Regions from separate parts of the Homo sapiens genome. Here region 2 is linked to region 1. The links come from fine-mapping of genetic effects on gene expression. Tissue or cell type: whole blood. Region 1 holds a variant in brackets; the other region holds the start of a gene. All regions are shown on one strand. Distances are from middle to middle.

Region 1 (2,756 bases):
AGTCAATCTTTGATGGTTCCCTCATTGAAATCTCCAGCCCTGAACTTTCCCAAGGGCCTTCTCAACATCTTCCACTTAGCTATCTAACTGATATTCACACAGAACCTAGTGTAGAAATAATTTTTGGTTCCCATCAAAAATACCTGCTCCTCTCTGGGTCTTCCCCATTTCATAAATGGCGGGCATAACCCATCCGGTTGCTCAGGCCAAAAGCCTAGTAGTTAGATGTAATTGTTCTCTTTACCTCAAAGTTCCCTACTCCCATCTCCTCCATCAGTAATGTAATGTCCATCACTCCCACTTCAAAATATGTCCTGGGCCTACTGCTTCTCTCTCCTCCTCCGGAGTTAACACCACCATCTAAGCCCCATCAACTTCTTACGTAGACAAAGCATGAGCCTCAAGACTGGTCTCTCTGCTTCCACTCATACCACCCCATTGCCTTTTTAACATACACAGCCAGGGTGATCTTTTAAAAGGTCCTATCATACAATTCCCCTGCTTAAAATCCTTCAGTGGCTCTGCACTACCAAGAAGCTATAGAGTTGTTAAAGAGATTGGTCTCTGGAGCTAGACTGAGTGGACTCAAGTGCTGTCTCTACCTTTCATTAACTGTGATCTTGCATGAGTTTTATACTTTGTCCGTCTCAGTTTCTTCATTTCTAAGTTGGGGATAATTAGTACCAAGCTTATATGAAGATTCAACGTGAGGATTCAGTGTTACATTGAAAGCACTTAAAATGGCAGGCACTAGGTGGACAGAAAGCAATTAGTAAATCTAAAACATTTTTTGTTTTATTTCTATTTGCCTGAGACCTGACCTTCTTGCCATGGCTTGAAGGATCTGACCCTTGGCTGCTTCTCAAACCTCCTCTCCTACCACTCTCCCCTCCTGCTCCAGCCTCACTGACTTCTTTTAGTTCTTTGAGTAGCAAACTCAAGTCTGCCTGGAGCCTTTGCTCTTGCAGTTCCCTCTACATGGAGGAATCTTCCCCACAGATCTTTGTGTAGCAAGTTCCTTATCCTTCAGCTCTCTGATCAGTGCTACCTTTTCACAGAGGCCTTTCTGATGTTCCTTTCTAGAAGACCCCCCCCCCCCGCCAACTTATGTGCCAGCCCTTTCCCGTCATTACGGGCTACTTTGCTTCATAGCACTGATCTGAAATCATATTTCTTATTGTTTACTTATTATTTGACTCCTCCAGTGGAATGTAATATAGATAGAGACCGTGTCCTTGCTATTCCCAGCTGAATCCTCAGCCTTTAGATCTGGATTTGGCACAAAATAG[G/A]CATCCCATAGATAATCATTGAATTAACAGCCGAACACATTTGTTGATTGAACCCACATGTTTCTTGACGTGTGGGAGCAAGTAGCTCTTCAGGTCTCTGTTTAGCGCTCCCAGGACCTGGCCCTGCCTCCCCTCTCCAAAACCCTTTGTGTTCCTCTGCAGATCGCTATGGCTCAGAGCAAGAGTTTGTCGATGACTTGAAGAACATGTGGTTTGGGCTCTATTCAAGAGGCAATGAAGAGGGGGACTCGAGTGGCTTTGAACATGTCTTCTCAGGTGGGAGCACTTTTCTTGGAAAGAAAGAGTTGGAGGGATGAAGAGGAATGGCTTTGCTCAGGAGCAGGGCAGCCCTGGGTGTGGATTAATCAGCAGTCCAGCCAGCTAGTAGGGAGGGACCCACGCACTCTCCCCTGCCCATATGGCAGGGGGGCGGGGGGGTGTCTGAGGAGCCATTCTGAGAAACAGTCTTTTCTGGAGTACCTAAGGGGGAAAGAAGACCAGATGCTGGGGCTCCCAAGGGGGTACATCTAGGACAAGACATGTGTCTGGGAGCAAGTTTGCCTACCTCTGAACAGTCCTTTGCTTCCAGGGCCTGGCCAGCTGCTTCCCAAGAGGGCCATGGTCTGTTCCCCCCTATTCTACCCCATAAAACTCCCACCAAGCCTGGCTTGCTGCTGGAGTAATGGCTGAGAGAGGTCATCAGGATCACCAGAAGGAAGGATTCTCCCAAGGGCTTGAGCCAGAAGGGGGGCCTTCCTGAGGTGAGAGATAGGACTGTGAGAGACTCTGGGGACTCACAGCAAGGGGTCAAGCAGCTAGAAGTCAGAGACTGGAGAAGGGGGAAGCCTTGGCATGGGGTGGAGAAAGGGGATTGGAGGGGAGGGTGGGGAAGGAGCCCAGATTATCCATCTTGGACTCTTTATTATAGGTGAGGTAAAAAAAGGCAAGGTTACTGGCTTCCATAACTGGATCCGCTTCTACCTGGAGGAGAAGGAGGGTCTGGTTGACTATTACAGTCACATCTACGATGGGCCTGTGAGTACACGGACTAGAAAAGCCTTGTCAGAGCCCAGATATCCTGCTCTCACTCTGTGTTCCAAACTGTCGACTTGCCTCTCAGCCTGACTCTCAGGGGGCAGCCCCAGGTGATTGTGACTATCACGTCCTCACCTGCTAGACAGCCACTTTAGCCAGCCAGGACACTGGAATTCCCTTCCAAACAGTGAAGGCTCTAGAACTGCAGGGGACAGGAGGCAGGAGGCACCATATCGGGGTGGGAGCCTGGGGCCTGGGGAGGATTCTCAGAGGGAAGAACAAAGATATGTAATTACTCCCTGCCTCAGTTTCCTTAGAACGTGGCTGAAAGTTTCAGCCTGGCTAGTTTGAGCTAAACTTCATACACTTTATAAGACAGAAACCTTTGCTGCCCGGTACCAGGAAATAATTTGGGGGCAGTAAACGATCCTT
Region 2 (2,756 bases), 46 kb before region 1:
CGAAACTCATGACTCCATCCCCCTAACTCTTCCCCATGCATACCTGTGACTCCCAACTTGTCATCCTTTCCTGTCAGTTTCCAGGTTGCTCTTCCTTCTTCCAAATTACCAGAACTCCGTTGAATGGATTTGGGTCTGAGGTCAGATTCATTCTCAGGCTTTCCTCCTTCCCCGGAGAGGCATTTAAAACTCCACCAGCGTTTCTTAATGTGTGGACACAGCAGATGACCTGGGGTGTTTGTTCCAAATACAGATTTTCCATTTCATGCCAATAGGATTGAATATGAATTGCTGGGGACGGAGCCTGCATTTTAGTAAGCTTCTGGGAAACATTTTTTATACATGTATACATTAAAAATGGGATTTTAATCACAATTAAAATTTCTCTCCCCACTTTCAAGAAAATAATAATTGGTGGAGGATGGGGGCTTGGCATCCCAAAATTGGGAGTATAGGCTTCTTAGAGCTACCTCTTCCCAGTCTTCTCCTCACTTTCAAGAAAATAATCATGGTGGAGGATGCGGGCTTGGCATCCCAAAATTGGGGTATAGGCTTTTTAGAGATACTTCTTCCCAGTCTGGGCTGGCTCAACAGCAAAGGGAAAAGGGAAGAGAAGGGGCAAAAAGTCCTAAAAAGCTGGGGGTGGGGCGTTCACCTCCTTCCAAACCCTCATTATCGTCCTGAATTACGGGTCGCTGTCCCCGGCCACTGTCTCTCCACCCTCTCAGGAGTGGGGCGAAGAGGCCCGCGCTGGGCCATTTGCACAGTGGTGGAAACTGAGGCCCAGGGAGGCGTGGAGCCTCGGTAGCAAGCCTGCCTAGCAGGGCGCTGGAATGCCCGGTCTCCGCCTCAACCTACCCGGCCACCAGGGAGCGCGCGGTAGGGGGCGTGGTACTCGAACACCTTCTGCTCCCCTGGAAGCTCTGCCACAACCCCAATCTCCTCTTAGGGCCCCTACCCGTTCTGGAGAGCAGTCCTTCCTCTCCAGCCTCAGTTTCCTCAACTGCTCCCGGTGTGTGTGTGCTGGGGCAGGGGGCAGTGGGGCGTGGGTCTGGGAACGGAACTGTGGGAGGCAAGGCAGCGGGATTCCCCGCGGGAAAGCCGCCTATTCCCTCCCCCGGGCGGCTGGAGACCCTGAACCGAAACAGGAGGCAGACACCCCCAGCCGGGAAGCGGCCCCAGCCCGGATTTCCCTCCCGGGTGAGGCCGCAGTGACTCACCCCCTCCCCGCTCTCCCCGGTTTCCTTGTTTGCATTTCTCCTCCCGGCCACGTGGCGGCCAGTGCAGCCACTCACCGCCGGATCCCTGACACCCCGGCCGTTGCGGCCTCCTCCACACACTTCGGGGCCGCTCCTGCCCCCTGGGGATACTCTGGGCTCAGGCGGATGTCCACTCTGGTACCCCCGGGTGCGGACTCCAAAGCCTGCCAGTGCCGGCCCCCTTCCCCTACGCATTCCTCTACCGTAAGGCAGGGCGCCTCCACCCCGCCCCCTCCGCCAGTCCTGGGGAGGGGAAGGGGGCGGGCAGCGCAGGGGGTGTGACAGCTCCCGCCCGGACCGGTGCCAGCGCAGCCTTGCTTCAGCGCCCGGTGCCAGCTGGCTCCTTCGTCTGAGACGAAGGCGCAGGCTCGGGGCTCCCTGTCGCCGGTGGCTGGGTGGCGTCCCCCCACCACGCCCCCACCCCTCTACTCACCCAAGAGGAGCCTCTCCACCGAGCCCTGCATCCTGCTGCCCTGGCAGCCAGTCCAGCTAGGCACTGGCCCAGTTCACTGTACCTGGACTTACCCACTGGCACCCTCCGGATCCCCTTATCAAAGCTGATGGGGGTCGCTGGGGACCCCCCAGCCTTTTGCTAGAGCCTGCACGGCTGTGCGAGCTTGAAAAGAAACATGAAGGTGGGTAAGGTGGGGTCAGGGTTGAGGAGGAGCAGGAGAGGGCGGGAGAGGAAGCTGACACGGTGGGGAGTTTGGGTGGGAGAGGGAGGGTTAGTCAGGGCTGAGGAGGAGAGGAGAAGGGTTTAAGCCGAAGCTGCATTTCTGGGAGACCTAGTGAATCTATAGCTTCATACTGGGAGGTAGTGGAGATCCCTGCAGGGGCATGGGCAGTGAGATGGGACAGAATTCCAAAGAGGACTAAGAAGGGCCTGATCTTTTCCAAGAGCCAGCTGGAGACCCCTAAGTGCGCCAGACCGGCAGGCCCCAGTGAAGGTCTTCCTGTTCCTCCCCCCAGCTCCTGGCAGGGTTGCAGCACCTCCGCCTGACCAGTCCAGAGGACTCTAAGGAAGTAGTTCTGCCTGGGGCAGTTGTACTGTGGCCCAGCCGCCCCAGTCGTGTCCCATGGCTGTCCACTTTCCTCCCCGTGTCACAGGTGGGCTGGCCAGGTGAGAGCTGCTGGCAGGTGGGCCTGGCTGTGGAGGATAGCCCAGCTCTGGGAGCACCGCGGGTGGGAGCCCTCCCTGACGTGGTGCCGGAGGGGACACTACTCAACATGGTGTTGAGAAGGATGCACCGGCCCCGAAGCTGCTCCTACCAGCTGCTGCTGGAGCACCAGCGTCCGAGCTGCATCCAGGGGCTGCGCTGGGTGAGTACCTTTCACCTGCCCAGGTGCCAGGGCCAGTACCAGAGCTAGAGGGGGGCCTAGATCATGGCTTGGCATGCTGCTGGTGGCCCAGCTTGCTCTGGGGGTGTACAGTGGTACAGCTGCCGTGGACACTGGGTCAGGAAGCTTGTCTGCAGTGTGCGTGGGTGGCTCACACAG

The links. PIP is the estimated chance that this variant, and not a neighbour inherited with it, causes the effect.
Region 2: RAPGEF3 starts here. The variant in region 1 is the best candidate, but not a certain one, in a credible set for the expression of RAPGEF3 in whole blood (GTEx, PIP 0.89).

What each region holds. Positions count from the first base shown.
Region 1 is chr12:47,712,084-47,714,839 of GRCh38, reverse strand. ENDOU (endonuclease, poly(U) specific) reads left to right here. Exons shown (of 10, transcript NM_001172439.2): 7 at 1,452-1,565; 8 at 2,218-2,324. All of the region lies in intron 1 of RPAP3-DT (RPAP3 divergent transcript), which reads right to left. Among named protein-coding and RNA genes, the nearest start is that of RPAP3-DT, 7.4 kb to the right of the region's middle. The variant G/A (reference allele first, on the strand shown) is at 1,290.
Region 2 is chr12:47,757,689-47,760,444 of GRCh38, reverse strand. It overlaps RAPGEF3 (Rap guanine nucleotide exchange factor 3), which reads left to right and starts at 1,565. Exons shown (of 28, transcript NM_001098531.4): 1 at 1,565-1,894; 2 at 2,367-2,579. The coding sequence starts at 1,889. It also overlaps a transcript of SLC48A1 not described here. RefSeq lists enhancers at 1,017-1,685, 1,686-2,354 and a silencer at 1,396-1,745.